Regions from separate parts of the Homo sapiens genome. Here all the other regions are linked to region 6. Evidence: fine-mapped expression QTL. A gene starts in region 6. Each other region holds a variant in brackets. All regions are shown on one strand. Distances are from middle to middle.

The links. PIP is the estimated chance that this variant, and not a neighbour inherited with it, causes the effect.
Region 1: its variant is fine-mapped to the expression of PLA2G4C in left ventricle (GTEx, PIP above 0.99).
Region 2: its variant is fine-mapped to the expression of PLA2G4C in whole blood (Lepik 2017, PIP 0.95).
Region 3: its variant is fine-mapped to the expression of PLA2G4C in whole blood (INTERVAL, PIP above 0.99).
Region 4: its variant is fine-mapped to the expression of PLA2G4C in whole blood (INTERVAL, PIP 0.97).
Region 5: its variant is fine-mapped to the expression of PLA2G4C in left ventricle (GTEx, PIP 0.99).
Region 7: its variant is fine-mapped to the expression of PLA2G4C in pancreas (GTEx, PIP above 0.99).

What each region holds. Positions count from the first base shown.
Region 1 is chr19:47,982,242-47,986,496 of GRCh38, forward strand. All of the region lies in intron 1 of BSPH1 (binder of sperm protein homolog 1), which reads right to left. Among named protein-coding and RNA genes, the nearest start is that of BSPH1, 7.8 kb to the right of the region's middle. The variant G/A (reference allele first, on the strand shown) is at 1,858.
Region 2 is chr19:48,184,137-48,188,391 of GRCh38, forward strand. The region is part of intron 3 of ZSWIM9 (zinc finger SWIM-type containing 9); the gene reads left to right. Among named protein-coding and RNA genes, the nearest start is that of ZSWIM9, 16 kb to the left of the region's middle. RefSeq lists an enhancer at 2,607-2,666. The variant TTTTG/T (reference allele first, on the strand shown) is at 2,155.
Region 3 is chr19:48,130,710-48,134,964 of GRCh38, forward strand. LIG1 (DNA ligase 1) reads right to left here. Exons shown (of 28, transcript NM_000234.3): 17 at 3,272-3,357; 18 at 2,273-2,388; 19 at 367-462. Among named protein-coding and RNA genes, the nearest start is that of LIG1-AS1, 13 kb to the right of the region's middle. The variant CT/C (reference allele first, on the strand shown) is at 1,837.
Region 4 is chr19:48,160,683-48,164,937 of GRCh38, forward strand. LIG1 (DNA ligase 1) reads right to left here. Exons shown (of 28, transcript NM_000234.3): 3 at 1,580-1,669; 4 at 690-825. Among named protein-coding and RNA genes, the nearest start is that of LIG1, 7.5 kb to the right of the region's middle. The variant A/C (reference allele first, on the strand shown) is at 1,878.
Region 5 is chr19:48,285,860-48,290,114 of GRCh38, forward strand. It overlaps ZNF114 (zinc finger protein 114), which reads left to right. Exons shown (of 6, transcript NM_153608.4): 6 at 1-1,749. The coding sequence ends at 1,019. Among named protein-coding and RNA genes, the nearest start is that of ZNF114-AS1, 16 kb to the left of the region's middle. The variant G/A (reference allele first, on the strand shown) is at 2,418.
Region 6 is chr19:48,108,391-48,112,645 of GRCh38, forward strand. PLA2G4C (phospholipase A2 group IVC) reads right to left here and starts at 2,427. Exons shown (of 17, transcript NM_003706.3): 1 at 2,097-2,427. RefSeq lists an enhancer at 2,243-2,402.
Region 7 is chr19:48,145,438-48,149,692 of GRCh38, forward strand. The region is part of intron 9 of LIG1 (DNA ligase 1); the gene reads right to left. It overlaps LIG1-AS1 (LIG1 antisense RNA 1), which reads left to right and starts at 420. Exons shown (of 3, transcript XR_007067281.1): 1 at 420-445; 2 at 531-681. The variant C/T (reference allele first, on the strand shown) is at 2,496.

The DNA.
Region 1 (4,255 bases), 130 kb before region 6:
CATATTCTGTGTTCATAACTAGTTCATCAAATTTGTGGATTACACTTGAAAGAGCAATGACTTAATTTTTTATTTTTTGAAAAGATTTTTGCAAAAGCAATGATTTTAATTCTGAATTTGTTGTGTATATTTCATTTATTACTGACGATTTTGCTATTTGCTCGTGTTTATTCATTCCACAAGTTTGTTTTTCAGCTAAATTGTCCTGGCTGCCATTGTGGCTTGAAATTAAAACGTTTTTCCTTAGGCACATCTTATTTAAGAAATAGTCATAATGGACCAGCACAATGGTTCACAAGCTTTGTTGCATATTAGAATCACCAGCTGAGTTTTTAAAAACCCAGATCCCTTCCACTTCTGGGTATATATACAAAATAATTGAAAGCAGAGACTCAAACAAATATTTGTAAACCCATGTTCATGGTAGCATTATTCATAATAGCCAAAAGGTGGAAAGAACCCACATGTCCGTGAGCAAATGAGTAAATAAAGAAAATATGGTAGACACATACAATGGAGTATTATTCAGCATTAAAAAGGAACAAAATTTGAATAGATGCCACCACATGGATGCACTTTGAAAATACTAGGTTAAGTAAAATAAGCCAGACACAAAAAGACAAATATTATATGATTCTACTTATATGAGGTAACTAGAATAGTCAAATACATAGAGACAAAAAGCAGAATGGTGGTTGTTAGGAGCTGGAGGGAGGGAGGAATGGGGAGTTATTATTTAATGGGTGCAGAGTTTCAGTTTGGGACAATGAAAAGGCTCTGGAGATAGATTGCACAATTTGAATGCATTGAATGCCACTGAACTGTGCACTGGTTCCAGTATATAGGGAAGATCTCACGATGAAGGGATCTGCATTTATTCAGCCAGTCCATCAACCCACTCATGTAGACAACAAATATGGATTGAATGCCTACTATGTGCCCAGCCTAGTGCTAGGTTCTGGGCTACCCAAAAAGGGAGTGGCTGAAATGGTAGACTCTGGACTACAGAAACCATGAGATTCAGGTGGGAATCCAAGATCAATGGACTCATCAGGAGTTAAGCTTGTCTTTCTCTGAAATATGGGGATTATAATTGTTTCTACTTCCTGGATTTGTTGGGTTCATTCAGTATGCATTCCATAGTGAAACTATTAGGAAATGGATTTTGGTTTTGAGGATCATGATAGGCCTGATTTCATGAATGGGGAGATACAGACGAGTGATTCCAACATAGCCTGTCTGCTAAGCACTATGATCTTAGAACAGGTATCACCAGGTAAGCATCAGAATGCAACATCCCCATATCATAAACACAGTGCACCATCCTCGGTGCTATAAAATTATGAGTCCCCACTCAAACGTCCCACTCTGATTAACACCAGAAATTCTGCCATCCACCTGGTGGATCATTTGTTGTGAATGTTGGGATGTTATGTTTCAAAAAATACCTTGCAAGTACAATGCAACTGCAAAGCAAGTGGACTACAAAATGAAGCCGGTCACTTTGTGAAAGATGCAAGAATGTATGAATTTAATGACAGTGATACAACAAAGTTAAAAAGAGCACATATTGTAACTCCATAAGGGCTTTGAAGAGAAATTTTTTTTTTTTTGACACGGAGTCTCACTCTGTCACCCAGGCTGGAGTGTAGTGGCACGATCTCGGCTCACTGCAACCTCTGCCTCCTGGGTTCCAGGGAGTCTTCTGCCTCTGCCTCCCAAGTAGCTGGGACTACAGGTGTGCACCACCACCTGTATTTTTACTTGGCTAATTCTTGTATTTTTAGTAGAGACAGGGTTTTGCCATGTTGGTCAGGCTGGTCCCAAACTCCTGACCTCAGGTGATCCACCCACCTC[G/A]GCCTCCCAAAGTGCTGGGATTACAGGTGTAAGCCACCATGCCTGGCTTGAAGAAAAAAAAAAAAATATATATATATATATAATATAAATATATATAATATGTATATTATACATAAAATATAAATATATATATTATATATTTTTAAATTCAAAGGATTAAGAAGGGCCCCTAAAAATTAATATAGTCCTAGAATTAGTCTTAGAATACTTATACAAAACTGGCTTTCTTTATGACCCTTTGAGGAAAGTGTAGAATGGAAGAAGACAAAGCTATGCACTGGAAAATCGTAACAATTTTGTCAGGAAAGTCCTGCATCCCAATTCTTTTCATTCTCAAGAATTCACCTTTGGTCATAATTCAAGCTAAATTCTGTTATAATATATAAGGTTTTAAAAATACCCTTATTTGAAATAAAAATGAGTCTCATTTTTTCAGTTAAACCCAAATCGAAATTGTTTTATGCAGCCATAACAAAGAACAAAATCATGTCCTTTTTAGCAACATGGATGCAGCTGGAGGCCATTAGCCTAAGCAAATTAGTGCAGAAACAGAAAACCAAATACCACATGTTCTCACTTATAAGTGGGAACTAAACATTGGGTGCACAGGGACACAAAGATGGGAACAATAGGCACTGGGGATTACAAAAGTGGGGAGGTAAGGAGGGGACCCAGGCTTGGAAACCAACTATTGATGGCCGGGTGCAGTGGCTCATGCCTGTAATCCCAGCACTTTGGGAAGCTGAGGTGGACTGATCATGAGGTCAGGAGTTCAAGACCAGCCTGGCCAACATGATGAAATCCCGTCTCTACTAAAAATTAGCCGGACATGGTGGTGGGCGCCTGTAATCCCAGCTACTCAGGAGGCTGAGGCAGGAGAATCGCTTGAACCTGGGAGGCAGAGGTTGCAGTGAGCCAAGATCGCACCACTGCACTCCAGTCTGGGCAATACAAGACTCTGTCTGAAAAAAAAAAAAAAAGAAAGAAAAAGAAAAAGAAAACTGCCTACTGGGCACTATGTTCATTATTTGGGTAATGGCTTCAATTGAATCCCAAACCTCACCATTTATGCAACATACTCATGTAACAAATCTGCACATGTACCTCCTGCATCTAAAATAAAATTTTTTAAAAGAAAAATCTTTTGAAAGAAGCCAGAGGGGGAAAAATACCTTACCTACAGAGAAGCAAAGATAAGAATTATGTCCAACTTCTTTCCAGAAACCATGAAGATAAGAATGAAGCATTTACAGTGTTGAGAGAAAAAAAAGTCTTCAATCTAGAATTCTGTACCCTGCAAAATTATTCTTCAGAAGTGAAGGAGAAAGAAAGACAAAGATTCTCAGACAAACAAACATTGAGGGAATTTGCTACCAGAAAACCTGCCTTGAAAGAAATGTTAAAAGTTCTTCAGAGATATAAAGAGAGGAAGCACATTAGAAAAAGAGTAAGTAGGCCCGGCATGGTGGCTCACACCTGTAATCCCAGCACTATGGGAGGCCGAGGCGGGCAGATCACCTGAGGTCAGGAGTTCGAGACCAGCCTGGCCAACATGGTGAAACCCTGTCTCTACTAAAAATACAAAAATTAGCTGGGCATGGTGGTGTGCGCCTATAATCCCAGCTACTGAGGCAGCTGAGGCAGGAGAATCACTTGAACCTGGGACGTGGAGGTTGCAGTGAGCTGAGATCACACCACTACACTCCAGCCTGAGTGACAGGGCAAGACTTTGTCTAGAAAAAAAAAAAAGGAAAAGAATAAGTGAATGTAAATAAAATGAAAGCATGTGAAATGTGTTCAGGAGCTTATGAAGTCCCCTGAACCCGATCACTTTTCCAGAGGATGAGCAGTGAATTTCAGCATCGTCAACAGCATATATTGGCATTCTTGCAGTTGCCCGCAGGAGGATATAGTTTATCAGACTTTATTCTTCCAAGCTACGGAGCCCCAGAGGAGGGAGGAGTCTGGGGAAGCTGGTCGAACAGACTAGGGAAAAAAAGCTGCAGTGGCCTCCCTATCGTGGGGAATTGCTGTAGCCTGCTACATGGTAGTCCTACGATCCTAACTTGGCCAAGATTCTTGTTTGGGTTCAAGAGCTGGGTCAGGAGTCTTCCCAAAGTGCTGCACTTGCTGTTCCATTCTATGTTCAATGGAATACAGCACAAGATAGAAGACAAAACTTACGAATCTAGAGAATGTCAGAAGGCCTGGAAGAGCACTGGTGAAGAGCAATAACAATGAATGGGGAGGAGTTGGGGTCCTTGGGTACCAAACCATGGGAGGCTCATCCCCCAGACAGGAGAGCCGCGTGGCCTCTGTGATTGCTTCTTCCTTGGTTTTGTGCTGTAGAATTTTACTGGTCAGGCATGGTGATTTACGCTTGTAATCCCAGCACTTT
Region 2 (4,255 bases), 76 kb after region 6:
CGGGGCCTGGAGCGGGACAGTTCTAAGGGTGCTGTTTGAATTGGTCAGGGAAGGTCTCTTTAGCAAATGATGGTGAAGCAGAGGAGATGGAACAGAGGCAAGGGACCCTCATTCTGTCATCAGAGGGAAGAGAATTCTAGGCAGAAGGAACAGCCAGTGCAAAGGCCCAGAGGCACGAGCAAGCTTGTGTTGGAGGAACAGTGAGGATGGCTGCTGCTCCATAAGGAATCTCTGCGGCTTTAATCCAACTTCAAGTTTGGGGTGAACTTGAAGTTTAAAGAGGAAAGAAAGATGAGAAAGTAGGGGAAGAACTGGTTTCTCCTCCTGGCTGTGCCTTTGTCTCCCTTGTGTGTGGAAGAGGTCCCAAGGCAGGGTAAAGTCGAGATTCAGCTCTGGCACACTCTTCCTGTCTTCATCTCATGCCCAGTAAGAAGCCCTGATTCAAGCCACCAGCCCAAGCCCAGGCCTCTGTCCCGACATAATAATAATTTTAGCTAATGTTTATCAAGCACTTACTATATGCCAGGCACTACCCTAAGTGCTTTACATACTATAACTCATTTTCATCTCACCTGAGCCCTATGAGGAAATAGTCCACCATTCTCATCCCCATTTTACAGACAAGGAAACTGAAGCACAGAGAAGTCAAGTAACTGGCTCAAAGTCACACAGCTATTTAGTGACAGAGCTGGGCTTCGGACCCACACAGCCTGGATCCAGACCCATGACCTTCACCATGGGGACAAACACACATGCACTTCCTACTCCACTGGTCTTTGCTGATCTAGTAACTCTCCTCCACTACCCACCATGACATAAATAAGCCTCAGCTGTTCTTCCCTGAACCCACCCTCTGCAGGATTGTCCCTGTGCAGAACAGCTCATTCATAGATCAGAGCCTTCCCTGGAAGGGGAGTTGTCTTTTCATTTTGAAGGCTGTCTTGGAATCTCGGCTAAACCACGGTTGGCTCCTGCGTCTGTGTTTTGACCTGCTTTCATACTTTTTTTTTTTTTTTTTTTGAGACGGAGTTTCGCTCTTGTCACCCAGGCTGGAGTGCAATGGCGGAATCTTGGCTCACCGCAACCTCCGCCTCCCGGGTTCAAACGATTCTCCTGCCTCAGCCTCCTGAGTAGCTGGGATTACAGGCATGCGCCACCATGCTAATTTTTGTGTTTTTAGAAGAGACGGGGTTTCTCCATGTTGGTCAGGCTGGTCTTGAACTCCTGACCTCAGGTGATCCCCCCGCCTTGGCCTCCCAAAGTGCTGGGATTACAGGCATGAGCCACCGTGCCCAGCCCCTTAATGCTCTTGAAAGAAAGGAGGAAGAAGTTCTAGGACAGGAGAGACAGATTAGTGAAGCAACATTTAAATATTTACTTTTTGAATATGTCATACATTCACATGGTTCTAAAAAAGGTATGTGGTGAAAAGTCTTATCACATCCTGTCCCCCAGGTCCCCTCCCCTGCAGAGTTATTAGCAGCTTATAAATCATATCTCGCTTTCTATCCTATGGACCAGCACTGCCCGGTGGAACTTTCTACAATGATAGAAATGTTCCTTATCCAGGCTAGGCATGGTTACTCACACCTGTAATCCCAGCACTTTGGGACTCTGAGGCAGATGGATCACCTGATGGCAGGAGTTCGAGACCAGCATGGCCAACATGGCAAAACCTGATCTCTACTAAAAATTCAAAATTAGCCAGGCATGGTGGCAGGTGCCTGTAATCTCAGCTACTCGGGAGGCTGAGGCACAAGAATCGCTTGAACCCAGGAGGCAGAGGTTGCAGTGAGCTGAGATTATGCCACTGTACTCTGGCCTAGGTAACAGAGTGACACTCTTGTCTAAAAAAATAAAAAGAAAGAAAATGGTTCTTATCTGTACTGTCCAATCCAGAGGCCACTGGCCACACATGGCTACAGAATGCTTAATGAGGCCAGTATGACTGAGGAACTGAATTTGTCATTTAATTTATCGAAATGTAAACAACCTAATGTAGCTAGTGGCTTCTGGATTGGACAGCGCAGCTCTGCACATATACAGGTCAATTTGCATGTCTGTATGTTTAACTTTAATTTTTAACTTTATTTCCTCTTTCTGCCCCGCCACCCCCCACCCCCAGCAAGCAGGGCAGCCTAGTGTACACGCTGT[TTTTG/T]TTTGTTTGTTTGTTTGTTCTTTGAGACAGGGTTTCACTCCTGTCACCCAGGCTGGAGTGCAGTGGCACGCTGTTGGCTCACTATAACCTCCACCTCCTGGGCTCAAGTGATTCTCCTGCCTCAGCCTCCTGAGTAACTGGGACTATAGGCATGCACCACCATGCCTGGCTAATTTTTGTATTTTTAGTAGAGACGAGGTTTCACCATGTTGGCCAAGCTGGTCTCAAACTCCTGACCTCAAGTGATCCACTCACCTTGGCCTCCTGAAGTGCTGGGATTACAGGTCGGGGCCACCACACCCGGCCTGTACATGCTGTTTTGCATCTTGCTTTATACGTTGGGGAGTGCCAGATGTCACCATCTTTCGTTCTTCCTCTGGGGCTGGTCAAATCCCCCTGAGAAAACTCCTCTGGCCTCCTGGCGGGGGGTGAAGGCCAGGCTGCCAGGGCCAGGCTGCCAGCTTCTGGGAGCTGCAGGGGCAGAGGCAGGGAGCTGTCAGGCATTCAGCCAGCAAGACGCACTCAGTACCCACTTGGGGTTCAGAATCCCCCTCCCTCATCTTCAGATGGGCCAGATGTCCCCAAAGCCAGCGGCCCCTTTCTGTTTCACCCTGTCTACAGAATAAACCCCCAGTCACTGGGGGTGGGGGAAGAGTAAGGGGAGAGGGGAAACGAGATTTGGAGGTCTAGCTGCTGCTGAAACAGCCCTCAGTTCGTCTTTATTTTGCCTTCTGCAAAACTGGCCTGGTGTTGCCAGCTCCTTTTGAGGACTTTGCTACCGGTTCTCAGCATCCCTCAATTGCTGGCTTAGGATTCATGGGTTTTTAGGGGTGGGGTGGGATTAGCATGTCCAGCTGCTTTCCAGTTTCCAAAGTTCTGTCCCTATCATATTGCCTCTGATTTAAAAAAAAAAAAAAGCCATTTTAAAAAAAAGATGTAATTGAGGTTCAAGAGAGAGTGAAACTAGAGAGGTGTTCAATCCATCACTTTTACACAGAAATTTCACCTTTTTTTCACTTATAAAATCTAATGAAAGAGTTCTATATTATTATGTTAATAATACAGTAGTAATATAACAGTATAATGTAATAATTAATATATTATATTAATTATATATTATAATTATATATTATATTATATTATATATATTATATATTATATATTAATTATATATATTATATATATTATATATTATATTATAATATATTATATTATATTATATATATTATATATTATATTATTATTATATTATATTATATATATTATATATAATATTATATATATTATATATTATATAATATAATATTATATATTATATTAATATTATAATATGTAACGCATAACATGTAATATTGATAATATAATAGGTGCGATGGCTCACACCTGTAATCTCAGCACTTTGGGAGGCCGAAGCGAGAGGATCACTTGAGCCCAGGAGTTCAAGACCAGCCTGGCCAACATAACGAGCACCTGTCTCTACAAAAAATTAAAAAAAAAAAAATTAGGCATGGTGGCATGCATCTGTAGTCCCAGCTACTCAAGAGGCTGAGGCACGAGGGTTGCTTGAGCCCAGGAGCTTCAGGCTGCAGTAAGCTATGATCACACCACTGTACTCCAGCCTTGACAACAGAGTGAGACCCTTTAAATAGATAGATAGATAGATAGATAGATAGATAGATAGATAGATAGATAGACAGACAGACAGCAAGCTTTAAATTTTCATCCCAAGCCTAGGTCAAGCAACAATCAGTCTTTCCACTTCCCAGCAGTCTTCCAAAGGAAGGATTATTTGTAAAAAGTGCCTGCACTTCCTGAGTTGGGTTGCTCTCTTGATCTTTGGAGGGGATCAGACAAGAAGGATGCGCCCAAAGCCACAAGGCATGATTTAAGGGCAAGACTGGGGGGCGACTTCACCCAGGGAGGTGTTAATACCTTTTTTTTTTTTTGAGATGGAGTCTCGCTCTGTCTCCCAGGCTGGAGTGCAGTGGCGCAATCTTGGCTCAGCACGACCTCCATCTCCCAGGTTCAGGTGATTCTTGTGCCTCAGCCTCTTGAGTAGCTGGGACTACAGGCGTGCGCCACCAGGCCTGGCTAATT
Region 3 (4,255 bases), 22 kb after region 6:
TAGAATCCCTTTTCCCTCTTTCTGTCTGGAAGAATGACATCTGTTTGGGAAACTCTAAGGGGACAAGCATTGGCACTAAAAGCCAACCAGCCAAGGACAGCAGGGGATAGAGGTAGCGATAAGCTTGGTTCAGGGGGACATCAGTGCTCAGCCAAGTCGGTGCTGGGGTGCCCACCTCTAGATGTGAGAAAAAATCATATGGGCTTACACCACGCAGGACTGAGTGCTCTGTCATTTGCAGCCAAACGCAACCTGATCTCCTCCCAATAAACCCCGCACTGTGCCACACTGGCCTAGATGGGCCTCAGGCCTTTGCACCCCTGACCACAGACCCTGGCAGAGTGCAAGTGTGTGGCAGACGCCCACCTTGGGGATGCGGCTGATGATGTCCGGGTACTTCCCAGTGTTGTCTTCCTGATTCCTGCTGAAGATCTTCACCTCCCCGCCTTCCAGGGCGTGGATCTGTCACGATGGGAGAAGGGAGGGGAAATCAGCTGAGTCCCCTCATGTGGCCTCAGCTTTCTCTTCTGACCCCACCTGCACTGGTAGAAGGTTCTGGAAGCTCTGGAGGAGGAACTGGTGCAGAGACTTGAGCGAATCATCTCCTCAGTTCCAACAGCACCTCCCAGCCCTGCTCTGGAAGGCCCTACCATCATTTTCTTCTTCATTTCCAATCCCTACACCTCTCCCCATGTAGGCACATGCACCTTGCTGCATGTGGGTGCTGATTTGTTTAAATGTCATTATGCTCTAGATCTCATTCTGATTTTTTTTTGAGGCGGAGTCTCGCCCAGGCTGGAGAGCAGTGGTGCAATCTCTGCTCAATGCAACCTCCACCTCCCGGGTTCAAGAGAGCCTTCCGCCTCAGCCTCCCAAGGAGCTGGGATTACAGGCGCCCACCACCACACCTGGCTAATTTTTGTATTTTTAGTAGAGCCAGGCTGGTCTTGAACTTTCGACCTCAGGTGATCCGCCCACCTTAGCCTCCCAAAGTGCTGGGATTACAGGCGTGAGCCACTGCGCCCAGCCTCTATGTCTATTTATTTTAAGACAGTCCGGTCACAGCCCTTGAGCAGGGCGGCATATATAGCATCTTATATGTTTGTTATTATTTCCAGGAACAGTTGTCAAGAAATCATTGTCACTATCGTAAATCATCTTGTGTCTTTTTTCTCAACACTATTTTGGAGATCCATCTCTGATCCTGTGTCTGTTGGATCCACCCTTTTTTTTTTTTTTTTTTTAAAAGATGGAGTCTCACTCTTATCGTGGAGGCTGTAGTGTAGTGGCACGATCTTGGCTCACTGCACCCTCTGCCTCCTGGGTTCAAGCAATTCTCCTGCCTCAGCCTCCCGAGTAGCTGGGACTACAGGCACACGCCACCACACTGGCTCATTTTTGTGGTTTTAGTAGAGATGGGGTTTCACCATGTTGGCCAGGCTGGTCTCCTCAGGGGTCCACTTCCTGTAACTGCCCCGAGCCCTGTGGCTCCCACCCACTTTGCCTGCTTACCTATCCCCAGGTGAGAAGGCCCCACACTTGCCAGGACAGAAGAGACACAACACATTCTTACAGACCCCAGGACCAAGGACGCCTGAGGCCCTGGATCACAGGACACACATGCACGTCACGGCATGAAGGGGTCATGTAGGCACCTCCCAGAACGGCTGTTAAAATGAACACACCCACCAGCAGCATCAGCGGAGCCCACGTTTCATGAGCTCCCACTATCATCGGTCAGGACTCTGGAGGATTGTAGCTTCGGATAAGCTGGTGAGGTAGTTAAGACCACACCCTAGAGGCCAGGCACGATGGTTCATGCCTGTAATCCCAGCA[CT/C]TTGGGAGGCTGAGGTGGGTGGATCATGAGGTCAAGAGATCGAGACCATCTTGGCCAACATGGTGAAACCTCGTCTCTACTAAAAATACAAAAAATTAGCCGGGCACGGTAGCGGGCGCCTGTAGTCCCAGCTACTTGGGAGGCTGAGGCAGGAGAATCACTTGAAGCCAGGAGGTGGAGGTTACAGTGAGCCAAGATCATGCCAATGCACTCCAGCCTGGATGACAGAGTGAGACTCTGTCTCAAAAAAAAAAAAAAAAAAAAAAAAAAAGAACACACTCACTGCATGGAGGTGGATGCTGAAGCCCAGAGAGATGAGCGAGGGCTCGGCAGTCTGTGGCGCAGGCCGGCTTGAAGCTCAGGCCTCAGTGACCCCACACCCCTGCTCTTTGACGTTTTCCTGTCTGTGGAAGGGACATGTCCCACTCCCCATACCTGTGCCCTCTGCCCGTCATATTTGTATTCGCAGGTGAAAGCTGCCTCCTCAAAGCGTTTCAGGACCTCGCTGATGCCCCGGGTGGGATGGGCCAACATTGGTTTCAGGGGAATCCCTGGGAAAGGAGGAGAGTGAGTTAGAGGAGAGGGAAGGCAATGGATTAGAGGGGGAACATGGAGAGGAGAACTGCTAATGGGCCCCAGGACCATTCTGCTTTCTTGCTATTCAGTCACGAAGCCTCCCACGTTTTAGAAGGGGACCTAGCCTCCCACTGGGGACTACAGCCCCCGGCCTTCCTTCCAGGTGGGAAAGGCCATGTGATTGGAACCCACGCAGCATGTGCAATGTCTGGCTCACATCCTTGCAAGGAATCTGGTTGCCTCCCCTCCCTCCTCTGCGTCCCTCCTCCCACAATTAGAACAGGGAAGTGAGCCACATTTGATCACAGACATTGGGGTGACAACCTTTGGAGGGCAGAGGGACACAGGAACCTGGGTCCCCGGGTCATCCCTGGGACACAGCTGCACACCTGTACCTTCCCTGGCCACCTCCCTTGCTCTGGACACTTCTGTGTGACAGAAAGAAATTCTATCTGGCCTGACCCACTGCCTTCTGGCCCATTTTTATTTACTTATTTATTGTCTCACTCTGTCGCCCAGCTGGAGTGCAGTAGCGCGATGACGGCTCACTGCAGCCTTGAACTCCTGGGCTCAAGCGATCCTCCCACCTCAGCCTCCCGAGTAGCTGGGATCACAGGCACACGCCACCACGCCCGGCTCCTGTTTATCACAGCAGTGTCACCTACACCCTATCTACTCCACAAGGGGAAATTCCAAGGAGAAAAGCAGTGGGTTTCAGCACCAGGGAGGAGCATTTGGTTTTGGTGGGGGAGAGGACTCTGCAAGTTCTGAGAGGGGCGCCTACGATGGCCACCCTCACGCCGACTCAGGAGGGAGCAGGGCTGCTGCCAGGCTGGTGAGCGCCCCTGGGGCCTGTACCTGGGCTCAGCTTGCAGTGCTCCGGGAGACGTTCCAGGCCGTGCTCCAGCAGCACGGGGATAATTCGGTCCAGGTCGGGAACCTCGCTGGGGTGGCGGGTGAGAACAAGATAGGGGAAGCCTTTCTAGAACTCACACAGTTTGGAAAGAGAGCTCGGCCTGCTCCCAGAAGCCTGGGCTCCTGGATGCCTCTGCCCACTGAGTCACCACCTGCCAAGCTCCTCTTGCCACCCTGTCTCTGTGCTCTCCCTTCGTGTCACTATCTGTTGCTTTGTCTCCCTTAGTCTGGCCTTGCCCCTGTTCCCTATCTGTCACCACGAGACCAGCGATTCTCTACTCGGCTACACAGGAGACCACTCAAGAATACAGTTTTTAAAAAAAGGTTTTTGGCCGGGCATGGTGGCTCATGCCTACAGGCATGTAATCCCAGCACTTTGGGAGGCCGAGGTGGGTGCATCACTTGAGCCCAGGAGTTCAAGACCAGCCTAGCCAACATGGTGAAATCCCATCTTTACTAAAAATATAAAAGTTAGCTGGGGGTGGTGGCACGCGCCTGTAGTCCCAGCTACTCAGGAGACTGAGGCAGGAGAATCACTTGAACCCTGGAGGCGGAAGTTGCAGTGAGCTGAGATTGTGCTGCTGCACTCCAGCCTGGATGACAGGGCGAGACTCCGTCTCAAACAAAATAAAAATAGACAAAGGTTTTCAAGGCTAGGTTCCACCTACAAAGATTTTGATGTAGCTGGTGTGGGGTAGGCCTGAGGTCAGCAGCTGATAGAGCCCCACGTGCAGGCAGAGTTGAGCTTGCTGCCCGGGCCTGTTCACCACTCTCTGCTCAGCACCCAGTGGGGGGCCCTGGCCCAGAGCAGGTGCTCTGAGGCCATCTGTGGAACTGCCATCGGCCCTCCTGCCTCTGACATCCTCTCTGGGGCAGTCATGATCTTGGAGTCACCAGCCCTGGGTCAGCTGCTGGCCTAGGTCCCTC
Region 4 (4,255 bases), 52 kb after region 6:
AAAGCCCTCTGACCACAGGAGAGGCTAGATATACTTTTGAACCCTTATTTTTTTGCTTTTTTTTTTTTGAAGCAAGGTCTTGCTCTGTCACCCCGGCTGGAGTACAGTGGTACAATCACAGTTCACTGCAGCCTTGAACACCCGGGCTCAAGCGATCCTCCTGCCTCAGCCTCTCAAGGAGATAGCACCACAGGCATGCACCACCACACCTGGCTAATTTTTAAAACATTTTTTTGTAGAGATGGGGTCTCGCTATGTTGCCCAGCCTGGTCTCGAACTCCTGGCCTCAAGTGATCCTCCCACGTTGGCCTCCCAACGTGCTGGGATTACAGACGTAAGCCATTGTGCTGGGCCTTGAGCCCTTGTTTTACCATCAGGCATTATTCTCAGATCTGTATGTAAATCGACTCATTTCATCTTCCCAGTCACCCTATGAGGAAGGTGTTACCAGGAGCTGCATGTTACAGTTGAGGCATCCAAGACCTAACGTGGTGAAGGAGCCCACCCGAGGTCCTAGGGCAGGGGCAATTAGGACCAGGTTGTGTCTGCCCCCGACACAACCAGGAAACACATCTACCTCTCCCGGGCAATTTCTCCAGAATTCTCCTGAACAGCTGCTGCACTCTGTTCCAAAGGTTAATGGGAATTAGTTTCTTCTGGTAAAAATGGGCAGGGTGATGGGGACCTACCTGGCCTTTAGCAGGGCTAAGGGCTTCATCCTCCTCTTCCCCTTCGCTGCCCAGGACCCGGGCCGCCTTCCTCCCTGGCCTCTTCACCGGAGAGTCACTCTCGGACACCACTCCATTCCACTCCTTCAGTGCCGCCCTGGAAGGTGGGGAAATGGGGGTGTAAAGGGGCGACTACAGCAGGCAGAGTGGGGGCACTGCCCGCAAACACTTTGGTTTCTTTGCTGTTTCCTTCCCTTCCTTTCAAGCATCCAATGAACATTTTCTGGTTGTCTCCTCAGCAAATCTCATCATTTCATCCATCAGTGCATTAATCCACCCGCCCACTCATCCACTCACCCACCCATCACACATCTCTGGAAGTCTCCAGAGTGCCTGCCCTGTGATGGGTGATGCTGAGGAGCAAATGGAGTCCCTGCCTAAGGTTGCCATTGGTCTCCAGCATCTATTGGGATGCCTTTTTTTTTTTTTTTTTGAGATGGAATCTTGCTCTGTCGCCCAGGCTGGAGTGCAGTGGGCCGAGATCACACCATTGCACTCCAGCCTGGGTGAGAGTGAGACTCCATTTCAAAAAAAAAAGAGTACTGTTGTCTTCTACTTAGATGAGACAGCATCAAGACGTGGCCAGTGGCCAGCGGCCAGCTTCTCTGCATTATGGAGAATGTCTGGTTCTAGAACGAGGCCAAGACCTGCAGAAACAGAGACGTACAGACAACTCCGAGGCCCTGGATCCAGCTGTGCCTGCAGCTGCTCTTGCTCTTGGACTTCTGGCCACCTGGCTGAAAAAGTTTTTTGGGCCCCAAGACATTTTGCATTAGGTTTGAACACTTGCAACCAAGACAATCCTGACTGCTAAAGGAAAAAATTCACCATATCCCAGCCCTGTGACATACTTTGGAGGGGGCTCCGTCTCTCTGCTGCTATTGGATGCCTCCTTCTCAGGCTTCTTTGCTTTACCCTCTTTCTTGGGGTGGAAAAATGACCTAGAGGAGCATAAAAGGGGGTAAAAAAAGGAGAATAACAGCACCAATACCCTGCCTATCTATGCTGTATCCTATAACTTCCTTTTTTTTTTTTTTTTTTGAGACAGAGTCTCGCTCTGTAGCCCAGGCTGGAGTGCAATGGCGCAATCTCAGCTCACTGCAAGCTCCGCCTCCTGGGTGCATGCCATTCTCCTGCCTCAGCCTCCCA[A/C]GTAGCTGGAACTACAGGCACCCGCCACCATGCCCAGCTAATTTTTTGTATTTTTAGTAGAGATGGGGTATCACCGTGTTAGCCAGGATGGTCTCGATCTCCTGACCTTGTGATCTGCTTGGCCTCCCAATGTGCTGGGATTACAGGCATAAGCCACCGCGCCCGGCCGCATCCTATAACTTCTAACACCATTTCCATCTCAGCACATAACAGAGAATTTCAAATAAGCCCTTTAACTTAACTGATAAGGAAACTCAGACTCAGACAAAGGAGGCAACACTAATTTTTCTGCCCTAACGCACCTGCAAGATATGATACATCCCAAGTTTTATTCAACAAATATTAACTATGCACTTTTTAAATCTTTTTTTTTTAGACAGACTCTCGCTCTGTTGCCCAGGCTAGAGTGCAATGGTGTGATCTCGGCTCACTGCAACTTCTGCCTCCCAGGTTCAAGCGATTCTCCTGCCTCAGCCTCCCGAGTAGCTGGGATTACAGGTGCCCACCACAACGCCCAGCTAATTTTTTTTGTATTTTTGGTAGACACGGGTTTTCTCCATGTTGGCCAGGCCAGTCTCAAACTCCTGACCTTAGGTGATCCACCCACCCTGGCCTCCCAAAGTGTTGGGATTACAGGCATGTGCCCCCGCGCCCAGCCTAAAAAAATTTTTTTTTTTGAGATGGAGTTTTCACTCTTGTTGCCCAAGGGTGGAGTGCAATGGTGCAATCTCGGCTCACTGCAACCTCGGCCTCCCAGTTTCAAGTGTTTCTCCTGCCTCAGCCTCCTGAGTAGCTGAGATTACAGGTGGCCGCCACCACGCCCGGCTAATTTTTTTCATTTAGTAGAGAAGGGGTTTCACCATGTTGGTCAGGCTGGTCTCGAACTCCTGATCTCAGGTGATCCTCCTGCCTCCCAAAGTGCTGGGATTACAGGTGTGAGCCACTGCGCCCGGCCTACCTAAGCACTTATTATGTGCCAGGGCCTGTTCTGGGCCTGAGGGGTTTGGCAGTGACCCAGACACACGAAGTTCCTGCCTTCAAGAAGCTAACACTCTGGTGAAGGGCAGAAATATTAAGCAAACAACTAAATATAAAATGTTGGGGCCTGGCATGGTGGCTCACACCTGTAATCCCAACACTTTGGGAGGCCGAGGTGGGCGGATCACGAGGTCAGGAGATCAAGACCATCCTGGCTAACACGGTGAAACCCTGCTTCTACTAAAAATACAAAAAAAATTAGCTGGGTGTGGTGGCAGGCGCCTGTAGTCCCAGCTACTCAGGAGGCTGAGGCAGGGGAATGGCCTGAACCTGGGAGGCAGAGCTTACAGTGAGCCAAGATCGCGCCACTGCACTCCAGCCTGGGCGACAGAGCAAGACTCTGTCTCAAAAAAAAAAAAAAAAAAAATGTTGGAAGGCGTGAACATTAAAAAAAAAATCTGGTGAAATCTGAATAATAAAGTATGGAGTTCAGTTAAGAGTAATGTACTGACATTAGTATCTCAGTGGTGAGAAACGGATCATAGTAATGTATGATATTGACAATGGAAACTGGCCAAGGGTATACAGGACCTCTCTGTACTGTCTTTGCAACTTTCCTGTACCTCTAAAATTATTCCAGAATAAGAGGTTTATTTAATCTTCAAAAAGAAAAGGAAAAATCATGCAAAAGCCAGTGGACAGAAAGCAATCGAAGGCACCATCAGCCCTGGAGAGACAATCCCCAGATTCCTCATCACGGGAGAAAAACGGAACCCAGCATTTGTGTAAGCCACTACCGCCCAGGTTTCTGGGATGGATGCCCTTGTCTGGGTCTCTCTACCATCCATTTTTTCCTCCTGGTAACAGCCCCTCCGTTTTCCTCTTGGGATGCTTCTTACCCCACATTCTCTCAGTACACACGATTTGAGTGGGCTGGCCCTTTTGCCTGTGACCAGGGGTGGACACGTGATCCAGGCTGCATCCCTGTGGCTGGTTCAGGGATAGGTATGTGGCCCAGGCTGGGCCAGTGAAACTGGGCTCTAACACCCTCTTTCCAAGGGGACCGCTAAGAGGGGAGAGCCCGCCTGAGGGTGAGGACAACCTCAAGGACAGTAGAGCTGAACAATGGAGAGAGACAGATTCCCAGGGAGGAAGTTTTGGCAACTGGATCGAACCAAGCCTGAGGCTGTTTACTCCAGCAGGTTTCAATGATATAAGTCAAGTCATGCCCTTTCTTGTCTTCCTGAAGCCGGACTGCATTAACACGAGGTTTCTCAACCTAGACACTATTGACATGTTGGGCCTGATGGTTCTGTGTTGTTGGGGGGGCTGTCCTATGAATTGAAGGATGTTTAGCAGCATGCCTGGCTTTTAGCCACTAGATGCCAATGGCAAACCCT
Region 5 (4,255 bases), 180 kb after region 6:
TCAGTTCCCAGCACTCCACATTAAGAGAAGACTGGAGATGCCCCAAAACAGAGGAACCACACAGGCAGGGGGTGAATAATGTGAAGCCACCTGCAGTTGCCCCTGAGAAAGATGAATCTCCTGTTAGCATTTGTGAAGATCATGAAATGAGGAACCACTCTAAACCTACCTGCAGGCTTGTGCCTTCACAGGGAGATTCCATAAGACAATGTATCCTAACACGTGACTCAAGTATTTTCAAGTATAATCCTGTCTTAAACGATAGTCAAAAAACACATGAAAACAACGAAGACGATGGAGTCTTGGGGTGGAACATTCAGTGGGTTCCGTGTGGGAGAAAAACAGAGCTGAAATCAAGCACATGGACTGGCAGTCAGAACACTGTGCATCATATACGTGATGAAATTGATACGGGGGCCAACAGGCACCAGCGGAATCCATTTGGAAAAGCTTTCCGTGAAGACGGATCCCTTAGGGCACACAACACTCATGGTCGAGAGAAAATGTATGATTTTACTCAGTGCGAGAACACCTCCAGAAATAACTCAATTCACGCCATGCAGATGCAGTTGTATACCGCAGAGACAAACAAGAAGGATTGTCAAACTGGGGCAACCTCTGCCAACGCTCCAAATTCCGGTTCACACAAGAGTCATTGCACTGGAGAGAAAACCCATAAATGCCCCGAATGTGGGAGAGCCTTTTTTTATCAGTCATTCCTTATGAGACATATGAAAATTCACACTGGAGAGAAACCGTATGAATGTGGGAAATGTGGGAAAGCCTTTAGATATTCCTTACACCTTAATAAACATTTAAGAAAGCATGTTGTGCAGAAGAAGCCCTACGAATGTGAAGAATGTGGGAAAGTCATTCGGGAGTCCTCAAAATATACACATATAAGGAGCCACACTGGAGAGAAACCCTATAAATGTAAGACATGTGGAAAAGACTTTGCAAAGTCGTCAGGACTTAAAAAACATCTTAAGACTCACAAAGATGAGAAGCCCTGTGAATGAAAGGAAGGTGGAAAATTTTTCATTAATTTTCTGACTGTACCAAACATGTGAGGAGGACATATTGGAAGGGAGCTCAAGGGGTTAGCATGAGTGAGAACATCTTCCCTGAACTCTCGTATCTTACAGAAATGTGAAAAAAAACCCTGTGAAGGTAAAGTCTACAGAAAGCCTTTCATCTTCATTCATCTTGAGTAGACATTTGTTCTCACCCTGGAGAGAAACTGCGAATCTAAAAGGAATATGACAAAGCCTTCAGCGTGGTCTCAAATTCATGGTTCATACAAGAACTCACACTGCAGAGACTCCTTACGGAAATAAAAAATGTAGGAAAGACCTGCCGGCCGCGGTGGCTCATGCCTGTAATCCCAGCACTTTGGGAGGCCGAGGCGGGCGGATCACGAGGTCAGGAGATCAAGACCATCCTGGCTAACACGGTGATACCCCGTCTCTACTAAAAATACAAAAAAAATTAGCCAGGCGTGGTGGCAGGTGCCTGTAGTCCCAGCTACTTGGGAGGCTGAGGTAGGAGAATGGTGTAAACCTGGGAGGTGGAGCTTGCAGTGAGCCGAGATGGAGCCACTGCACTCCAGCCTGGGGGAAAGAGCGAGACTCCGTCTCAAAAAAAAAAAAAAGTAGGAAAGACCTCTTTAAACACTTACCACTCATGTTGCATGTGAATCCACATCCTGAAGGGAGGCTACAACTGGAATAAAAATAAGAAAGCTTTCAAGGCCTGGTGCAGTGACTCACACCTGTAATCCTAGCACTTTGGGAGTCCAAGGTGGGGGATTGCTTGAGTCCAGGAGTTTGAGACCAGCCTGGGCAACATGGAGAAACCCCATCTCTACAAAAAAAAAAAAAAAAATGCAAAAATTAACCAGGAGTGGTAGCACATGCCTGTAGTCCCAGCTACCTGGGGAGCTGAGGCAGGAGGATCGCTTGAGCCTGGGAGCTTGAGGCAGCAGTGAGCTGTGTTTGCACCACTGCACTCCACCCTGGGTGACAAAGTGACACCCTGTCTCAAAAAAAAAAAGAAAGCTTTCAGGTCCAGCCTTTCACTTAGGCACAATGAGCGCACAGTAGGACTGAAACACTGTAAATGTTCATGATTTTCCAGTTTTTCCTTTCTAAAAAAAAAAATGCTACAAGATGAAGGATATCCCTCTTTGCACACTCCCAGCTCTGCCACATAAATGTTGGTATATAGCAGGTTCATTATAACTCACATACACGTGGTCTCATTTTCAATGTGAAGCCTTCTTTGAGCCTCATTCAATTTAGACTTGGGATTCATATACTCCATGATACCATTTTTGTCTTATTGGTCACTGTTCAACTGCATTATGGTCAGAGTATGTGGTCTTTCTGGTACCAACTTGGGTTACTTGTTATGACTTT[G/A]TCAGTCTAATGTGCCCTATTCTGTCAACTTCCCTGCCACCTCCATTCTTCTCATCTTCTTTACTAAGGGCACATAGATTCACTTTCCACAATGAGCACTATTTAATGTCTTATTTTTATTTTTATTTTATTTATGTATGTATTTATTTTGAGACAGAGTCTTGCTCTGTCACCCAGGCTGGAGAGCAGTGGGGCAATCTCGACTTACTGCAACCTCTGCCTCCTGGGCTCAAGTGATTCTCCTGCCTCACCCTCCCGAGTAGCTGGGATTACAGACACCCACCACCACGCCCAGCTAATTTTTCTATTTTTAGTAGAGACGAGATTTCACCACGCTGGCCAGGCTGGTCTCAAACTCCTGACCTCAAGTGACCTGCCTGCCTTGGCCTCCCAAAGTGCTGGGATTACAGGCATAAGCCACTGTGCCCGGCCTCTTTTCAATCTTTTAAAAGTTGGGAAACGGCCGGGCATGTTGGCTCATGCCTGTCACCCCAGCACTTTGGGAGGCCAAGGTGGGCGGATCGCCTGAGGTGAGGAGTTCGAGACCAGCCTGACCAACATGGAGAAACCCCATCTCTACTAAAAATATAAAATTAGCCAGGTGTGGTGGCTCACGCCTGTAATCCCAACTACTCAGGAGGCTGAGGCAGGAGAATTGCTTGCATCTGGGAGGCGGAGGTTGCGGTGAGCCGAGATTGTGCCATTGCACTCCAGCCTGGGCAACAAGAGTGAAACTTATCTCAAAAAAAGTAAAAATAAAAATAATAAAAAATAAAAGTTGGGAAATATGACTACCTGAAAATGCATGAAAATGTACATATACATTTTTTTTTTCGAGATGGAGTTTTGTTCTTGTTGCCCAAGCTGGAGTGCAGTGGCGTGATCTCCGCTTACTGCAACCTCTGCCTCCCAGGTTCAAGTGATTCTCCTGCCTCAGCCTCCTGAGTAGCTGAGATTACAGGCACCTGCCACCACGACATTTCAAAGTTAATAAAGTGATCACCCTTATACCCACCATCCAAGCCCGTAAACAGCTCATCATTAAACACCAGGCAATTCACGTCTGTGCCTCACAGACGACATCTCCAGCCCCAAGAGGAAACCGCCATGGTTCATTTTGTATCATTCGCCCCCCTCGCTCATCTTTATGTTTGCAGCTATGCAGAAATCCCCAAATACCCTGTTTTCTAGTTTCGATGATGTTTATGCTGCGTATGATGGCATGGCATAGAATATTTCTTTGTGCCTTGCTTCTTTCAGGAAAAGAAAAGCTAAGCAGGTAGGGTGCAGGTGGCATTCATTCTTTCTTAGTTATATTCATTCCAGAGACCCTGGATCTGTATCTCACTTTAGAGATTATAAACATGCTGCTAACACCAATTTTGCAAAGCCCTCCCAATGAGCATTTTATGAAAGTCATTCTTGGCCGGGCGTGGTGGCTCACGCCTGTAATCCCAGCACTTTGGGAGGCCGAGGCAGGTGGATCACTTGAGGTCAGGGTTCAAGACCAGCCTGGCCAATGTGGTGAAACCCCGTCTCTACTAAAAATACAAAAATTAGTCAGGCATGGTGGCATGCACCTGTAGTCCCAGCTACTCAGGAGGCTGAGGCAGGAGAATTATTTGAGCCCAAGAGGCGGAGGTTGCAGTGAGCCGAGATCGTGCCACTGCACTCCAGCCTGGGCAACAGACAGAGTGAGACTCTGTCTCAAAAAAAAAAAAAATAGGCCGGGCGCGGTGGCTCATGCCTGTAATCCCAGCACTTTGGGAGGCCGGGGTGGGTGGATCACTTGAGGTCAGGAGTTCGGGACCAGCCTGGCCAACATGGCGAAACCCCAT
Region 6 (4,255 bases):
CTCCCAAGAAGTGGGGATTACAGGTGTTAGCTACCACACCCCACTAAAAAGCTGAGTTCTGTGTTTCACGACAGTGATATTATTTATAGAAGTAGCTGGGGAAGTTATAAATCATGCGACCCCTGGTTACGTGACTCTGGAGCACATATAGAAAAGGAAGCTAAGGGATGGCAGGTCATTCTTCAACCCACGACTGTTCTTTAGCAAAGTTCCAGCACCTTCATGATTCTAACCTTGTCTTATGAATGTGACTTCAGGCCAGGCACAGTGGCTCATGGCTGTAATCCCAGCACCTTAAGAGGCCGAGGTGGGAGGATCACTTGAGGTCAGGAGTTGGAGACCAGCCTGGCCAACATGGTGAAACCTTATCTCTACTAAAAGTACAAAAGTCACCTGGGCATGATGGCGGGCGCCTGTAATCCCAGCTACTCAGGAGGCTGAGGGAGGAGAATCACTTGAACTCAGGAGGTGGAGGTGCCAGTGAGCAGAGATCATGCCATTGCACTCCAGTCTGGGCAACAAGAGTGAAACTCTGTCTCAAAACTAAATAAATAAATAAAAAGTAAATGAATGTGGCTTCAATCTCTCAACAAGGACTGGGGGTCAGTTTTCTTTGTCTCAAAGTTTAACTATGAATTAAATTCCTCTCATGGTAATTTTGGCCTCTGCACTAGAATAAGAAAAAAAAATCTAGCCTGTGAGGTTAGAAACAAGATGGTCAGTCATGTTAGCTTTCTCTCATTACTTACATTTCTGCGAAGGCAGTTTCAAGACCCCCCTTATGAAATTAATCAGCTTCCCCCCACCACCTCCAAATTCATATGTTGGACTTGTAACCCCCAGAACCTCAGAATGTGACTGTATTTGGACATAGGATTCTTTTTCGTTGTTTGCTTTTTGAGACAGGGTCTTGCTTTGTCACCCAGGCTGGAGTGCAGTGGTGTGATCGTGGCTCACTGCAGCCTCAGCCTCCTGGGCTCAAGCGAGCCTCTCACCTCAGCCTCCCGAGTAGCTGGAAGTGCAGGTACATGCTACCATCTCCAGCTAAATTTTTTATGTTTTGTAGAGATCAGGTCTTGTTATGTCACCCAGGCTGGTCTTGAACTCCTAGGCTCAAGAGAGCTTTCCACCTTGGCTTCCCAAAACGCTGGGATTATAGGCATGAGTCATCGCACTCGGCCAGACATAGGCTCTTAAAGGGGTGACTAAGTTAAAGTGGGGTCCTGAGGGTGGCCTGGAATTTGGTTTGATTGGTTTATTTTATTTTATTTTTTTTTGAGATGGAGTCTCGCTTTGTGCCCTAGGCTGGAGTGCAGTGGCGCAGTCTCGGCTCACTGCAAGCTCCGCCTTCCGGGCTCACGCCATTCTCCTGCCTCAGCCTCCGGAGTAGCTGGGACTACAGGCGCCCGCCACCACGCCCAGCTAATTTTTTGTATTTTTAGTTGAGACGGGGTTTCACTGTGTTAGCCAGGATGATCTCGATCTCCTGACCTCAGGATCCGCCCGCCTCGTCTTCCCAAAGGGCTGGGATTACAGGCGTGAGCCACCGCGCCCAGCCTGATTGGTTTTATAAGGAGAGATTAGGGCCTCTGCAAGAGGCTTCAGGAGAAACCAACCCTGCCAACACCTTGATCTTGGACTTCTAGCTTCCAGAAGTGTTAGAAAATAAATTCCTAGCCGGGCGCGGTGGCTCACGCCTGTAATCCCAGCACTTTGGAAGGCCGAGTGGGGTGGATCACGAGTTCAGGAGTTTGAGACCAGCCTGGCCAACATGGTGAAACCCCATCTCTACTAAAAATACAAAAATTAGCCGGGTGTGGTGGTGTGCGCCTGTAATCCCAGCTACTCGGGAGGTTGAGGCAGGAGAATCGCTTGAACCCCGGAGGCGGAGCTTGCCGTGAGCCGAGATCGCGTCACTGCACTCCAGCCTAGGCGACAGAGCGAGATGCTGTCTCAAAAAAAAATAAATAAATAAATAAAATAAAATAAAATAAAAAAGAAAAAGAAATCCTGTTATTTAATTGCACCCAATCCCTGGTACTTGGTTATGGCCGCCCCAGCGGGATGAAACAGCCCTCCCTGCCCCCACGGCTTGCCTGAGCCTGGGTCTGGGGCGTGTGCGCATGCGCGGTGGAGCTTGTGCTCCGGAATCCGGTGCGGAGGCTTGGGCTCCCTGCGCTTAGCGGTGTAGTCGCTGGACAGCTCCTTCAGCCGGAATCTCCGCGGGTGAAGACTGCGGGGATCCTCGGTGCCAAAGCTTCTGTGGTCCTCCTGCTTTCCTTTTCCCCCTGTGGGAGGAGGTCGCGGGCTGGAGGTGTTTCCTCCTGGTCCTGAGCAGGGCCAACCTGGAGGTAAAATGGCCCCTGCGCCTTTAAACAGCCCTCCTCGGCTTGTAGGCCCTGCTTGGTTGCTCCAGCTTTTTCAGCTGTTCCAGAGCTCACCCGGAGCTATTTTCATCCGTGGGATCACGTGGAGGGCTGGGACTTTCCAGGCTTCCTTAGTGATGTCACCCTTCTGTCATTAGGCACCCGAGACCAGTATTCAAAAAAAGAATGTTGTCGTTATATAACTATATTGGAGATAAGTATTCCTCAAAACAGATTAGCTAATCCTCCTATGCATCTGGCTGTCTAATAACCATCATATATAATATCATACTCAAATACCCAGAAAAAGAAATATTGAGGCCAGGCGTGGTGGCTTACGCCTGTAATCCTAGCACTTTGGGAGGCTGAGGCAGGCGGATCATGTGAAGTCAGGAGTTCGAGACCAGCCTGGCCAACATGGTGAAACACCTTCTCTACTAAAAATACAAAAATTAGCTCGGTATGGTGGCGTGTGCCTGTAATCCCAGCTACTACTCGGGAGGCTGAGGCAGGTGCTTCATCCTGGGAGGTGGAGGTTGCAGTGAGCCAGATCCTTAGGGCCAACTCTGGTTCATTTAATGTCCATTTTTAGAAAACCTGTGAGCTCCATTCACAGTGAAGGTTTGAAGCCCAGAAGTGGCCTCCCAACAGGGTACCACATTTCCCAGCACCTTTGCAGCTAGGTGTGGTCATGTGAGCGAGTTATGTGGTCATGTGACCGAGTTCCAGTCAGTGCAATCGGGCATCTGTGGGGAGCACCGCTTCCAAGAGTGGCTCCTAGAAACCTCCCATACTACCCTCCTGCCTACTCTTCCTGAAGCCCAGCACTAAGCGTCATCCCAACTCGATGGGTTTTGAATTTTTTTTTTTTTTTTTTGAGATGGAGTCTTACTCTTTGTCGCCCAGGCTGGTGTGCAGTGGTGCAATCTCGGCTCACTGCAACCTCCGTCTCCTGGGTTCAAGCGATTCTCCTACCTCAGCCTCCCGAGTAGCTGGGAACATAGGCATCTGCCACCACGCCCGGCTAATTATTTTTGTATTTTTAGTAGAGACAGGGTTTCACCATGTTGGCCAGGCTGGCTCGAACTGCTGAACTCAAGTGATCCACCTGCCTCGGCTTCCCAAAGTGCTGGGATTACAGTTGCGAGCCACCGCACCCAGCTTGAATTCTTATTTTTTAAAAATAGATATGAGGCCATAATCCTAGCACTTTGGGAGGCCAAGGCAGGAGTATCACCAATTTTAGAACAGGATTTCACCAGGGGGAAGATGGTCTCCCCTGCTCCCCCTAACGCCAGGCTCACCTCTTCAGTGCCCGCAACTCCAACCATCGCAGGATCTTTTCACTCCTAGACCTGACCATGCCACTGCCCCGCCTGCGGGATAAGGTTCTACACCTCGCAGGAGCTCATGAGGCTCTCCACAGTATAGTTAGTAGTTATAGATGCAGGGTCAAGGAGCTGACAGCATGGACCAAACCCTGGCCCACCACTTCCTAGATAGTGGACCTAGGGAAGGTAACTTACATCCCTGTGCCCCTCAGTGTCCTCACCTGTTAAATGGGGAGAATAAAAGTACCTACCTGGTGGAGCCATCATGAGGGTCACTGAGGAGTGAGGATGACCCTGACTAGCTTCAGCAGAGGGACATGGCGGCCGTGTGTGGCAGATGTGTTCCTGGGGCCCTGCACTGGTGCAGGGAGGAAGAGCCAAGCCCAAAGGAACCATGGTCTCCACACAAAGCCAGTAATGTGGGGATCCCCTGACATACAACATTTACTTTTTTTTTTTGCCTTAAACATTTTATTTGAAATTGAAACACAAATGCACACTAATTTGCCAGTTCTTTAAGGCAGAGCTGTATCAGGAACTCTTAGCTATGAGAAACAA
Region 7 (4,255 bases), 37 kb after region 6:
GAACAATGAGGACTCCCCAGCCCCAGGCCTACATCTGTACCAAAATGGGGACAAGGGTTGGGGGGGAGAAAGAGACCTCAGGATATTTTTCAGCTCTTCAGCTGATTCTGATGCTCACACAGGGCATGGATGGCCAAGACAGATAGTGCCACTGCAGGGCTGTGCATGGCCTTTGGTATGAACTTGGGGTTTAACAAGCGGTGGCCGGCATTACAATGAGGCAGCAGAGTGTGGTGGGCAGGGGAGTCTAGAGCCAGTCAGCCTGGCTAGAACCACAATGCTGCCACTCCCCACCTGTGTGGCCTGAGCATGGCATTAAAAACAAATAAGAATAGTAGCAGCAGTTACCGTGACAACATGCTGGTCATAATCAAGGCCAGACCCTGGGCTAAGTGTTTCACATCCTCAGAAGAGAGACACAGAAAGGCTAAGTCACTTCCTCAAGGTCACACAGCTGAGAGAGGTGGAGCTGGGATTCCTAGCCAGTCCTCAATACTGTCCCACCTCCCCGCTTTACTTTTCTCACCCAGGAAACCAGGATAACAACAGAATCTACTCCCAGCAGTGTTGTGAGGATTTGGAGCATTGCGTCAGGGAAAGCCCGTTGCTGAGTGCCTGGCACGTGGGGAAGAGTGGGTGGAAGAACATGCTTCCTCTCATCACTGTGCCCCCATCTGAGAGGTGAGGAAATTGGAGAGTGGGAAAGTTTGCCTGTCTCTTGGAGGCAGCCATTGGAGACAGAGGGGAAGTGACCAGGCTAGGAATGGTGCAAGAAAAGCAGTCATGCCTGGCGTGGTGGCTCACGCCTGTAATCCCAGCACTTTGGGAGGCCGAGGCAGGCAGATCACTGAGGTCGGGAGTTTGAGACCAACCTGGCCAACATGGAGAAATTAAAGGGGTTTGGAATAATCCCTGCTGTTCAGCAGAAAGGACAGGTGGGTTAAAAAGTATGACGCAGTGAGTCCAAAATCTCTTTGATGTCATGCCTCTACAAATGAAACAGATAACGACAAGAAATTCTTTCAGCTTTAACATTTCATGATTAAAGTTTAAGTCTAACAAAAAAGTGTCTGTCTCTATTAAAAATACAAAAGTAGCCGGGCATGGTGGCGCATGCCTGTAATCCCAGCTACCTGGGAGGCTGAGGCAGGAGAATCACTTGAACCCGGGAGGTGGAGGTCGCGGTGAGCTGAAATCGTGCCACTGCACTCCAGCCTGGGCAGCAAGAGCAAAACTCCGTCTCAAAAGAAAGAAAAGCAGTCGTAGTATCACTTGAAATAGAAAACAGAACTTTATATACAGTAGGACACTGATTTTATTTGGAAAACATATTTATAAATACACAAACACGGACACACACTCAGGAGGCACGATATGGCAATGGGGAAGAAATAACTGCTAGGAATCAAAAACATTCCTTAGGGTCCCAGGCCTGGCCCTACCCCCACCTCCCTGTGTGACCTGGCGAGGCCCGACCTAACCTCTCTGGGCTAATCATGTCAATGTGTGTAAAATGGCTAAAGTGCTCCCTTCCTCCACAGGAATACTGCAGAGAGGACGTTAACGTGCTATTTAACCTCCTTGATAAGGTCTCAATTGGGGGTACAAAATTGATGTCAAGAATCCTCCGAACACTTTTTTGTTAGACTTAAACTGTAATCATGAAATGTTAAAGCTGAAAGAATTTCTTGTCGTTATCTGTTTCATTTGTAGAGGCGTGACATCAAAGAGATTTTGGACTCACTGCGTCATACTTTTTAACCCACCTGTCCTTTCTGCTGAACAGCAGGGATTATTCCAAACCCCTTTTCCGTTAATTTTTTTTTAGCTTTCAGGACATCAAGAATTCAAGAGGGGATGAAGTCCACGCTGCTAACACCATCACATTGTATTTGAAAACACAATCTTTAGAGGAAAAAAATAACTTCAGATGGATATATGATTATGTAAGAAATCAGGCTGGCCGTGGTGGCTCATGCATGTAATTCCAGCATTCTGGGAGGCTGAGGTGGGAGGATCACTTGAGTCCAGGAGCTCGACCTGGGCAATGTAGTAGGACCCCATCTCTACAAAAAGTAAACAAAAATTAGCCCGGCATGGTGGTACATGCCTGTAGTTCCAGCTACTTGAGAGGCTGAGGTGGGAGGATCCCGAGCCCAGGAGCACCACTGCACTCCAGCCTGGGTAACAGAGCAAGACCCTGTCTTTAAAAAAAAAAACAAGAAACAAAAAACAAAAAACCCAAAAAACCTAAGTTCTATAAAGAGGAATTTTTGTCTGATTTGTTTCCTACCAGATCTCAGGCACCTAAAATCCAGTAGCTAACACGTAATCAGTCCTTTGTAAATACTTACTGAGTAAATAAATGAGTCCATGATTGACTAGTGAAAAAAAAAAATCTGAAAGTGCTCATTTAAATTTCTTTCATGGCAGATTTCCTGGGCTTCCTAGGGGCCAGCCCCAGTGCTGGGAGCTAGGCAAGAAGACTAAGAAGG[C/T]TGGGACCTCCCACAGCCCTGGCTCTGTGGGAAGGAGCTTATGTCTGGTTAGGGAGGCTCTTTACCATGTGACAAGACATAAAAGACAGTCTGACTCAAGTGCTGGGGACACGCACCTCCTCTCACACATGAAGGGAGAGGCACCCGGCTTCCCTAAGCAGGTGCAATAGGAGTTGGGGCCTGAGGGAAGCCTGCTGGGCAGGGTGGGTTAGGGACAGTGTTGTAGGCCGGGGTCAAGCATGTTCAGAAGCAGGGAGGAGGCTGGGTGTGGTGGCTCACGCCTGTAATCCCAGCACTTTGAGAGGCTGAGGCGGCCAGAACACCTGAGATTAGGAGTTCGAGACCAGCCTGGCCAACATGGTGAAACCCGGTCTCTACTAAAAATACAAAAATTAGCCAGGCTTGGTGGCGAGGCACCTGTAATTCTGGCTACTTGGGATGTGGAGGCAGAAGAATCGCTTGAACCTGGGAAGTTGAAGGTGCAATGAGCTGAGATCGTGCCACTGCACTCCAGCCTGGGCAACAGAGTGAGATTCCATCTCAAAAAAAAAAAAAAAAAGCAGGGAGGAATGACAGCACGTGGGGACATGGTGTGCAGAGGGAGCAGGAAAAGGCTGCAGATGCCAGGAGGCTGCAATGTAAGGTGGACAGGGCTGGCTCATGAGGGCACTGGGAAGCCCAGCATATCCTCTATGCTGGGGAGAATCGCAGATGGGTTTTGAGCATGGCAGAGATGGGGGGGTGACCTCATTACTTTATAGGATATTTATCCACCCACGCATCCAATCATCCATTCAGCCAGTCTTCAGTGCGGCCTCCTGTGTGCATGTTAGATGTCGTGGGAATCAGCCCAGACATCTCTTCAAATAATTAACAAAATTACAGTGAAGCAATTAATTGCTTAACAACCTATTCAGTGTCCCACAGCCCCAGCACACTAAGCACATCACGAGGGCTGGGGCAGGGCGGCCGGCTCTCTATGGTTCATCCTCGTGGGCCGCCCAGGGCTGGCAAAGAAGGGGTGTTCAGTGAATTTTAAGGCAGAGTAGACGCGCCTGCAGGCTTCCAGCACATACACTAAATCTGGTGAGTTCAGGCCAGGTGTACTGGCTCACGCCTGTAATCCCAGCACTTTGGGAGGCCGAGGTGGGTGGGTCACCTGAGGCTAGGAGTTCAAGACCAGCCTGACCAATACGGTGAAACTGTGTCTCTACTGAAAATACAAAAATTATCTGGGTGTGGTGGCATGCACCTGTAATCCCAGCTACCTGGGAGAATCGCTTGAACCTGGGAGGTGGAGGCTGTGGTGAGCTGAGACAGCACCACTGCACTGCAGGCTAGGCGACAGAGCAAGACTCTGTCTCAAAAATAAAAAATCTGGTGAGTTCAGAGCCAGAGGAACAGAGAGGTAGGAAGTGAGGCCAGAGAGGGAGGTGGCAGCCAGTGGCCAAATGGGCTTAGATTTTCTCCTGACGGCTCTGGGGAACCCTAGAGGGGCAGAGTCAACTCTGGGTGTTAGAAAGATCCCCCAGGCTCTACGGGGATCAGACTGAGGATGAAAGACTGGAGGCAGGGTCAGAGGGTGGCTGGGGCCACGGTCAGCAAACTCCGACCCTGGACCGTTTCTACAGGTTCTGGGATCTAAGAATGGTTTTGCAACAGGGGCCAAATGTGTCCCATAAAGCCTAAAATATTTACTCTCTGGCTCTTTATAGAAAAGGTTTGCCAAGTCCTGCAAGAGGAGGAAGCCTGAGCTGGGG